Regions from separate parts of the Homo sapiens genome. Here regions 1, 2 and 3 are each linked to region 4. Evidence: fine-mapped expression QTL. A gene starts in region 4. Each other region holds a variant in brackets. All regions are shown on one strand. Distances are between the middles of the regions.

Region 1 (2,687 bases), 25 kb before region 4:
AAGTGTTTGTTGAAGAAAAACAACTAAATTATGCAAAAACAACAAGCTCTACAATGTTTTAACTTGTTCTATGCCCATCCCCTTCTCTCCAGCTCTGCAGTAGCCTTGAAAACATATCACACAATAATGTGGAAAATCAGGAGCTTGTAAGTCACTAGAGGAGGAAGAATGGAGTTAGAGCTCCTTCAAAGCTCTATACTCATGTAATTGTCATTACTTGACCCATATGATAGTTCCCTGGAAGACTCTACTCACAAAGTTTGTCTTTATTTTACCTGACTCAGAGCTTGTTCAGTGTGAAAAGCCTTTCATTGAAGATATTTGTTGAAAACAATAAGTGGCAATTGTTTAACATCATGGCTGCCTGCTGTTGAAGTGGATAACAGTTAGGGCAAACATTGTAGACTGACCAAAAAGCTTAAAATAAAAAATGGGGAAATTAAAACTCCACAGGGGCTTTGACAAGCTCTGACAAATTCTCAAGAACCTAGGAGGGAATACATATGCATAGGATTTCCCATTCCCAGGGCTGTGAACATGTTCAGAAAAGACCTGAGAATGTCCAAAGCTGTCATTCCTGACTGACTTTGAGGCCCCACATGAGGAGGAGATGAAAGCCACGACAAAGTTTCAAATCAACTGGCCAAGTGCCAAATGCCTCCAAATAAACACAGAGCCCTTAATAAAGAGTGGAAGCCTTATTGGTTTTAGGCACTTCAGGAGATATCTGTCTCATCATTAGCTGACCACCAAGCTAATCAAGCAGAGACATCAGTGATCACACATGACAAAAATATAAACTTTACAGATCACTTCAGTAAAATTATTAAACAGCAACAGTAATAAAAACAAATGGCAACAAAAACATGCCCTGGAATTAAGAGAGAATCTTATTTCCAGAATTGCCACATTGCATTATTTAAAATATTCAGTTTTCAAAAAAAATTGAGAAATACAAAGAAAAATAAGAAAGTATGGACCATAATGGTGTGGGTGTGTCAGGGGAAGGTGGCAGTAGGAAAAGGCAGTCGATAAGAATTGTCCCTGAGAAAGCCCAGACATCACAATTACTACACAAAAAACTTTATGTGAGATGATTTAAATATGCTCAAATAAAGGAATCCA[A/G]ATCTACAGAACTAAAGGAAAGTATAATAATGATGTCTCAACAAATAGGGATTATCAATGAAGAAATAGAAATTATAAAAATAATGAAAAGGAAAGTGTGGAGTCAAAAAGTACAAAAACACAAATGAAAAAGTCACTAGAGGAATGTGACAGCAGAATTGAGCCAATCAAAGAAAGAATTAGTGAATTTAAAGATACGTTAATTGAGAGTATTGAATCTGAAGGGCAAAAAGAAAAAATAAAGAAAAATGCATAGAGACTCATAGAGCTGTTGAACATGACCAAGCATACCAACATAGACATGATAGGAGACCCAGAAAGAGAGGAGAGAGAGAATAGCAGAAAACGTATATTTGAAGAAATAATGACAGAAAGCTTTCTGAATTTCACTAAAAACAAGAATCTACACATTCAAAAAACAAAAAGAACTCCAAGTAGTATAAACTTAAAAAGATCCACATCTAGCCAGGCACGGTGACTCATGCCTGTAATCCCAGCACTTTGGGAGGCCAAGGTGGGCGGATCACGAGATCAGGAGATCAAGATCATCCTGGCTAACATGGTGAAACACCATCTCTACTAAAAAATACAAAAAATTAGCCGGGTGTGGTGGCAGGCACCTGTAGTCCCAGCTACTCGGGAGGCTGAGGCAGGAGAAGGGTGTGAACCCAGGAGGCAGAGCTTGCAATGAGCTGAGATCACACCTTTGCACTCCAGCCTGGGTGACAGAGCAAGACTGTCCAAAAAAAAAAAAAAAGTCCACATATAGACACGTTATAATCAAACTGTCAAATGACAATCTTGAAAGCAGCAAGAGAGAAGTGACTCATTAGATAGAAGGGTTACTCAACAAGATTAACAGCTAATTTCTCATCAGAAACCATGGACACCAGAAGGCAGTAAGATGACATACTAAAAGTGCTGAAATAAAAGTATTGTCAACTAAGAATTCTACAGCCAGCAAATCAACTCTTTAAAAATGAAAAAGAAATTAAGACATTCTCAGATAAACAAAAACTGAGAGTGTTGCTGGCAGACGTGCCTACAAGAAATCCTAAAGTGGGGGTTTTCTGGCCACAGTGAAAAAGCAGGCGATAGCAACTCGAATCTACATGAAAAAGCAAATAAACCAGTAAATTTAACTACATAGTAAATATAAAAGACAATATCAGTGTATTTTTTCTTTGTTACTCTTTGTTTTGATAATCACTTCTTTACCCCATTGGTGAAGGATGGATCTCCAACCTAGGGTTATGGAGATGGCTGAAGACACCTGACACTGAACAAATGAGATCAACAGCAGTTTTTTAGTCACATATACCCACGACCCAGGGGAGGAAGACACATGCCATGCAAGACCACAAGGCGCTTGTGTTTGGGACCAGAGTGAACAAGCAGGGTCTGTGGGAGGCAGACTTTGTAATATCAAGAGGATAAGGTGATCCTTGGTTCCCACAGAAGAATGTGATTGGCTCATTTGAATAATGACATGGGCTGGCAGGGACTGAGGCCTGCTACTCAGTGATAAATAACAACTGTGTCTGATCCCTGTGATAAGGAGA
Region 2 (2,687 bases), 40 kb after region 4:
GAAGGAGAAGCAGGCACATCTTACATGGCAACAGGTGAGAGTGCATGTGAAGGAAGCAAAGGGGGAAGAGCCCCTTATAAAAGCATCAGATCTCGTGAGAACTCATTCACTATCATCAGAACAGCAGCATGGAGGAACCACCCCCACGATTCAATCACCTCCCACCAGGTCTCTCCCTCAACACCTGGGGATTACAGGGATTACAGTTCAAGAGGAGACTTGGGTGGGGACACAAATCCAAACCGTATCAGTGCATCAAGTGCGTAAAAGCCAACCTCAGTCAATGGGACCTTCAGTTTCCCATACCCTAAGGACAAGGCCTGGGCTGCAGGGTCCTCATGCTCCCCAGAGGCACCCTCAGTACTGAGAGAGGTGCCCAGAGCCCTCCATGGATTCCGGCCTGGGGACCCCCTGCCTCAACAAGCCAGGTGACTAAGCAAATGCTCAGGGCCCTAGGTGCAGACAGGGCTCCCCACAGAGCAGCTGTAAGGGCTGGGGGCCTCAGTCTTGGGCCCCACACTGAGCTTCAGAGCTGGGCACCCCCAGCATCCCACACCCTCCACTCCCCTGCTATAGCTGAGACCTGGCCACTGACCAAGAATCCTGCCCATTTTTAAATCTGTTTTGTTGTTGTTGAGTTGTAAGAGTTCTTTATAAATAGCGGATACTAGAGCATTATCAAATATGTGATTTGCAAGTACTTCCTCCCATGCTGTGAGTTGTCTTTTCACTTTCTTGATAATGGCCTTTGAAGCACAAAAGTTTTTAATTTTGATGAAGTGTCATTTATCTATCTTTTCTTTTGTTGCTTGTGCTTTTAGTGTTATATCTAAGAATCTATTGCCAAGCTCAAGGTCATGATTTCCACATTTTTGCCTAAGAATTTTATAGTTTTAGCTGTTACATTTAGGGCTTTGAAACATTTTGATTTAATTTTTATATCTAGTATAAGTTAGGGGCTCAGTTTCATTCTTTTTCATGTGGATATCCAGTTTTCCCAGCACATCTGTTGAAGACACTGCTCTTTCCCTACTTTATGATCCTAGCAACCTTGTCAAAAATCAATTAACTGCAGATATATAGATTTGTTTCTGCGTTCTTAATTTCACTGTTATCTTTGATCTCCTGAGGAAAAAATGGGTTTGCTGATGGTCTGTCTTGATAGCGGCAATAATGGCCCCTAACCCTCTGCAAAGTGCTTTTGCACAGTTAATCTTCACTATTACTACTTTGTGAGGTAGGTATTACTGTCTCTGTTTAACAGGTGAGGAAACAGGCCAAGAGGGGTCAAGTGACTTGCCCAGAGCTGAGTAGCAGAACTGGGACTGGAGCCCAGATTTG[C/T]CAAATGCCAGAGCCTTTGCTCTTTCTATTTCATCCCAGCTGCCCCTGACTAACATTTGGGTAGCCCTTTCTGGTTCTATGAGTGTTTTAACATATATTACCTCCTTTGTTTAGTTGATTTAATTAAAAAATTAAAAGCAAGTTGTTTCCACCTGTTGGGAGCTTCTTTGACAGTACGGAAGGAGAGCAAGGGAAGTACCGAGCATTATCAAATGTGAATCCCGGGAACTCTATCAAGGACCAGGGCAGAAAAAAAATGAAAGCAAAGATCTGGGGAGAAGATCTTTGATTCATGAGATTAGAGAACCAGTGGGGGCACAGATAAGGATACCAAGGAGGAATCATTGCCTAGATCACTCTATTAAAATAAGACCATGGTGTAAAAAGTCCAGGAACATCATTCAGGTGAGCCTAAGTACAATCCTTGGCCTACATCCAAGTGTGGTTGGTGACTTGTGATGTGCCTCTCCCTGAGTAGAGTCCCCGGGGTCTGCAGGGAGGCCCGGGGGTGCTGGCTGATGAAAGCCGTTTGCAGAGAGTGAGGACAGGAGCCGAGGGCTGTGAGCTGGCAGTCTTCAATGGAATCAGCTAGGAACCACCATTTCCAAAGTTGTGGGATCCTGAAAGGAACCCTGACAAGAGGTGCTTGGTGAAAAAGATCTTAAAGAAATGTTTGAAGAAGTGCTTGTTGACCAAAGATATGAGGATTTGAGATGAATTTTTAAAAAGTGAATATATCTTTCCATTTTCTCCTAATTGGTATCGCTGGTTTAGAGTAAACTGGAGAGGGAAAAAAAGTAGCATTCTTTCCAAAGTCCACAATCATTGTCTCAGAATAGACTCAGTTTTGTCCAGGCAAGATTGCTTTCACCATTTGCTGTGCTACCTAGTAACCTTTTGTGTTACTGGAGCTCGGAATGCTACTGATCAATAATGGGGGGGCAGGGCGGGCGTCTCACAACGTAAGCCCCAGAATTCTAACAGAAATACACATACACACACACACACACAAACACACACTCCTATACGTGCACACAAATAGAAACAGGGCCCAAATTTATTGTAAAATCAGATTTATTGATTTAAAATATAACCAGACCACTATTTTGGCCCATCTCTTTTGCCCCATCCCTGACTAAGTCTTCACTCCATTCCCCATTTCCTCTTCTTCCTTCTCTTGCTGGCTTGTCCATTTTCTCTATATCCTCTACCCCTGACTGTCTTCTCTTCAGAGACTTTCCTATACCCATTTAATCTTACTCTCATGTTTCTTCTGTGCTGCCTTCTCTAAATAGTCAACTTCCTTTCAAATATTGTCTAGACCCTTGGCCTTGCTGAACACACAA
Region 3 (2,687 bases), 37 kb before region 4:
AGTGACTTGTTTCCCCATTGCTTGTTTTTGTCAGGTTTGTCAAAGATCAGATGGTTGTAGATATATGGCATTATTTCTGAGGACTCTGTTCTGTTCCATTGGTCTATATGTCTGTTTTGGTACCAGTACCATGCTGTTTTGGTTACTGTAGCCTTGTAGCATAGTTTGAAGTCAGGTAGCGTGATGCCTCCAGCTTTGTTCTTTGGGCTTAGGATTGACTTGGCAATGTGGGCTCTTTTTTGGCTCCATATGAACTTTAAAGTAGTTTTTTCCAATTCTGTGAAGAAAGTCATTGGTAGCTTGATGGGGATGGCATTGAATCTATAAATTACCTTGGGCAGTATGGCCATTTTCACGATATTGATTCTTCCTATCCATGAGCATGGAATGTTCTTCCATTTGTTTGTATCCTCTTTTATTTCATTGAGCAGTGATTTGTAGTTCTCCTTGAAGAGGTCCTTCACATCCCTTGTAAGTTGGATTCCTAGGTATTTTATTCTCTTTGAAGCAATTCTGAATGGGAGTTCACTCATGATTTGGCTCTCTGTTTGTCTGTTATTGTTGTATAAGAATGCCTGTGATTTTTGCACATTGATTTTGTATCCTGAGACTTTGCTGAAGTTGCTTATCAGTTTAAGGAGATTTTGGGCTGAGACGATGGGGTTTTCTAGATATATAATCATGTCATCTGCAAAGAGGGACAATTTGACTTCCTCTTTTCCTAATTGAATACCCTTTATTTCCTTCTCCTGCCTGATTGCCCTGGCCAGAACTTCCAACACTATGTTGCATAGGAGTGGTGAGAGAGGGCATCCCTGTCTTGTGCCAGTTTTCAAAGGGAATGCTTCCAGTTTTTGCCCATTCAGTGTGATATTGGCTGTGGGTTTGTCATAGACAGCTCTTATTATTTTGAGATACGTCCCATCAATACCTAATTTATTGAGAGTTTTTAGCATGAAGGGTTGTTGAATTTTGTCAAAGGCCTTTTCTGCATCTATTGAGATAATCATATGGTTTTTGTCTTTGGTTCTGTTTGTATGCTGGATTACATTTATTGATTTGTGCATGTTGAACCAGCCTTGCATCCCAGGGATGAAGCCCACTTGATCTTGGTGGATAAGCTTTTTGATGTGCTGCTGGATTTGGTTTGCCAGTATTTTATTGAGGATTTTTGCATAGATGTTCATCAGGGATATTGGTGTAAAATTCTCTATTTTTGTTGTGTCTCTGCCAGGCTTTGGTATCAGGATGATGCTGGCCTCATCAACTGAGTTAGGGAGGATTCCCTCTTTTTCTATTGATTGGAATAGTTTCAGAAGGAATGGTACCAGCTCCTCCTTGTACCTCTGGTAGATTTCGGCCATGAATCCATCTGGTCCTGGACTTTTTTTGGTTGGTAAGCTATTAATTATTGCCTCAATTTCAGAGTCTGTT[G/A]TTGGTCTATTCAGAGATTCAACTTCTTCCTGGTTTAGTCTTGGGAGGGTGTATGTGTCAAGGAATTTATCCATTTCTTCTAGATTTTCTAGTTCATTTGCGTAGAGGTGTTTATAGTATTCTCTGATGGTAGTTTGTATTTCTGAGGGATCGGTGGTGATATCCCCTTTATCATATTTTATTGCGTCTATTTGATTCTTCTCTCTTTTCTTCTTTATTAGTCTTGCTAGCGGTCTATCAATTTTGTTGATCTTTTCAAAAAACCAGCTCCTGGATTCATTGATTTTTTGAAGGGTTTTTTGTGTCTCTATCTCCTTCAGTTCTGCTCTGATCTTAGTTATTTCTTGCCTTCTGCTAGCTTTTGAATGTGTTTGCTCTTGCTTCTCTAGTTCTTTTAATTGTGCTGTTAGGGTGTCGATTTTAGATCTTTCCTGCTTTCTCTTGTGGACATTTAGTGCTATAAATTTCCCTTTACACACTGCTTTGAATGTGTCCCAGAGATTCTGGTATGTTGTGTCTTTGTTCTCATTGGTTTCAAAGAACATCTTTATTTCTGCCTTCATTTCATTATGTACCCAGTAGTCACTCAGGAGCAGGTTGTTCAGTTTCCATGTAGTTGTGTGGTTTTGAGTGAGTTTCTTAATCCTGAGTTCTAGTTTGATTGCATTGTGGTCTGAGAGACAGTTTGTTATAATTTCTGTTCTTTTACATTTGCTGAGGAGTGCTTTACTTCCAACTATGTGGTCAATTTTGGAATAAGTGTGGTGTGGTGCTGAGAAGAATGTATATTCTGTTGATTTGGGGTGGAGAGTTCTGTAGATGTCTATTAGGTCCACTTGGTGCAGAGCTGAGTTCAATTCCTGGATATCCCTGTTAACTTTCTGTCTCGTTGATCTGTCTCATGTTGACAGTGGGGTGTTAAAGTCTCCCATTATTATTGTGTGGGAGTCTAAGTCTCTTTGTAGGTCTCTGAGGACTTGCTTTATGAATCTGGGTGCTCCTGTATTGGGTGCATATATATTTAGGATAGTTAGCTCTTCTTGTTGAATTGATCCCTTTACCATTATGTAATGGCCTTCTTTGTCTCTTTTGATCTTTGTTGGTTTAAAGTCTGTTTTATCAAAGACTAGGATTGCAACCCCTGCTTTTCTTTTTTTGTTTTCCATTTGCTTGGTAGATCTTCCTCCATCCCTTTATTTTGAGCCTATGTGTGTCTCTGCACGTGAGATGGGTTTCCTGAATACAGCACACTG
Region 4 (2,687 bases):
AGCCCAATATCCTAATGGGGTCCAAAAGGATAGGTTCGAGAAGGATTTGGCTGTCTTCCAAGATCAATGACATTCCCACCTCATCCCCAGTTTCCCTTAGTAATCCACAGTGGATCTGTCAGCCATGACTTTACTTTCACTCTTTCCAAAGCTACTTGCATTTTCATCTTGCTGCATCTTTTGGAGCTAATGAATTCCTTAGGTTTTCCATTTGCTATAGAGAATAATAGTTCTTTTCAGTCGCCATAGCAAGAACACTCACCTTGGAGTCCAACAGATCTAGGTTCTAGCTCTCACTTCTGCCACTTACTAGCTGAGTGGGCACAGGATATTTTCTTCCCTTCTCTGAGATTCAGTTTCCTCCTCTGCATAATGGGGTTATTGATAACTCCTCTTCCTCCCTTGCATGGCTGCTATGATGATAAAATGAGATCCTTGTTATAAAAGCACTTGAACAGTACAAACTGGGGTTCTGGTGCAGAGTTATACTTTAGCTGAATTTTCTAGCTAAAGATTGGGGGCTGTTGGTTCTAGAATTCTCAGGTCTGGTGAATAAGGCTGTGCTCCTTCTCTCCGTCTCTGCATAATTTTATACACTCTGGTCACATCACTTCCCAGCCTTCATCGTTCTAGACTAAAGAGTCTGCGTTTGTTTAATCTATCTTCATATGTCAGCCACCACCCTCCCCCCGCCCCACACACACCATCCCTTTGATTATAGAGTGGCCCTTCTCTGGATCATCTCCAGCTCCATTATGTCATTCTGGAAGCACTAAGACCAGACCTGCTCAAGTGTGTGTGTGTGTGTGTGTGTGTGTGTGTGTGTTCCTCAGCTCTGAACCTCTGACTCTGACCCCCTCCCCAGTTATAAATCCTAGAACAGGATAATTACCCAAGACCCTGTCCAACTATAGAGAAGGTTGGTTGGCTTCATACTGAAGCCTCCCCCTCTTTCTCTGCGCAGCCCTGGCCCCAAGGGGCTAAAACTGCTCCCTGTCTGGCTTGGAAGGCTGGGAGGTGGATAACTAGGATGGGGAGACTGAGGGGGAGGGAGGAGGGGGGGGGTCTTGCGCAAGCGCACGCGGCTGCACGGACCGCCAATGCTGCTGCCTCCCAGAGCAGAGGGAGGCAGAAGAGGAGGGAGGGAGAAGAGTGGAAGGGAGGGGGAGGCGGCACTTGGGCTGCAGCTCGCAACCAGAGGCAGTGTCTCTCAGCTCTCGGAAGGACCGAGAGAGGCAACCGCGGAGTAGGATGCTCTGCGGGGCGCCCAGAGCCGGGGGCGCTTGAAGCAGCTTCGGGGACTGGGGCAACCGGGCAGTTTTCACCATGCATCAGTCCCTGACTCAGCAGCGGTCCAGCGACATGTCCCTGCCCGATTCCATGGGTAAGTCTAGCGGCCCTTCCTTCGGGCGGCGGCAGCAGGGGTTGAGTGCCCTGGCCTCTGGACTGTGAACGCCCCAGCTGCCCCAAAAGCCGGAGAGCGGGAAACGGGGCATGGATGGGGTGGTCTTCGCGCCCCAGCGTCTGGGTGGTGGACCAGAGTCCCAGGGGAGCGGCCTGGCTGCAGCGGGAGCGACGTGCGGAGATCGGAGCGCCAAGCTTGCGTCGGAGTATCTCTGCCCCGGAGTGCGGGTGTGTGCCTGTTTGTGTGCGTGTGTCTACAGACTTGCAGTCGGTGGTAAATCCCAGCAATCTGAGGATCAAAACACTTCCCTGCAACCTGCGCCTTCGCTTTCCATTCGACACTCCCTCTTTGCAAAGTCCTGGTCACTTCTAAGAGCTCACGACTAACGACAATTAGAAGCAGGGTCCTCGCCCCCTCCCAACTCTCTTGAAGCTGCCCTGAAATTTAGAGATGCAGTTGGGTGGGGGCCTGACTTGCACCTCGCTGATTGGGGGGGGGGGGCGGGTTGCGCAACTCTGGGGGATGGGCGGGGGTGAGAAGAAAGGGGGGGATGAGGGGAGGGGAATTCCTGAGGAATCACTCAAGACAGCCCAGCCCTGCCCTCTGCAGCGGCGGGATCAACATTCTTTGAATTTGATTGTTACTCTGCTCCAAATGCACGGAATGTGCATGAGTGTGAAAAGGGAGTCAGGGGCAGGAGTGAGAGCGCGAGAAAGAAACATCCAGCGCGAGCCCGCGCATCTTCTGAAGTCGCGCTTTTCCTCGCAGGGCGGAATGGAGGGGGAGGGGCACCCTTCGACTCCTTTCCTTATAGAAACTGGGGGACAGCTACCTTCGGGCACCAACTTGGCTGCCCCTCGAAGCTGCTTTTTGGTAGTTACAAAAAAAAACAAACCCAGTCCCCCTCAGCTGTTAGGCACCTTCCCAAGCCCTGTGATTTCACTGGGCGGAGAAATTAATTTGGAGCCCTGGAGAGCGGGAGGGGATTGTAAAATCATGATCCCACCTAATCTTTTAAAATTCGCCTCGGATACACTTCAATCAAATCGAATTCTCTCTTTCCAACATACTTTACATTCTGCAAAATCCCTCTGTCCCGCAGTTCCTGCCATCAGTCTGCTCAGGTCTTCTCCGATGAATTTGCGGGAACATCTCGAGTGGAGGGGGCAGGGAGAAGATCGAACCCCCTATATAATCTCCCTACTGCCCGCAGAAGACTCAGTGTCAACAAAACTCGTTCACCGGAGGGGCCCCAGAAAGTGTTATCTCCTGGATGGTGGAA

Evidence for each region. PIP is the estimated chance that this variant, and not a neighbour inherited with it, causes the effect.
Region 1: its variant is fine-mapped to the expression of TMEM255A in whole blood (TOPMed, PIP 0.97).
Region 2: its variant is fine-mapped to the expression of TMEM255A in lung (TOPMed, PIP 0.99).
Region 3: its variant is fine-mapped to the expression of TMEM255A in whole blood (TOPMed, PIP above 0.99).

What each region holds. Positions count from the first base shown.
Region 1 is chrX:120,334,767-120,337,453 of GRCh38, reverse strand. No RefSeq gene overlaps it. Among named protein-coding and RNA genes, the nearest start is that of TMEM255A, 25 kb to the right of the region's middle. The variant A/G (reference allele first, on the strand shown) is at 1,126.
Region 2 is chrX:120,269,961-120,272,647 of GRCh38, reverse strand. All of the region lies in intron 7 of TMEM255A (transmembrane protein 255A), which reads left to right. It also overlaps the pseudogene PFDN4P3. Among named protein-coding and RNA genes, the nearest start is that of ZBTB33, 20 kb to the right of the region's middle. The variant C/T (reference allele first, on the strand shown) is at 1,342.
Region 3 is chrX:120,346,470-120,349,156 of GRCh38, reverse strand. No RefSeq gene overlaps it. Among named protein-coding and RNA genes, the nearest start is that of ATP1B4, 14 kb to the left of the region's middle. The variant G/A (reference allele first, on the strand shown) is at 1,435.
Region 4 is chrX:120,309,949-120,312,635 of GRCh38, reverse strand. TMEM255A (transmembrane protein 255A) reads left to right here and starts at 1,175. Exons shown (of 9, transcript NM_001104544.3): 1 at 1,175-1,384. The coding sequence starts at 1,327.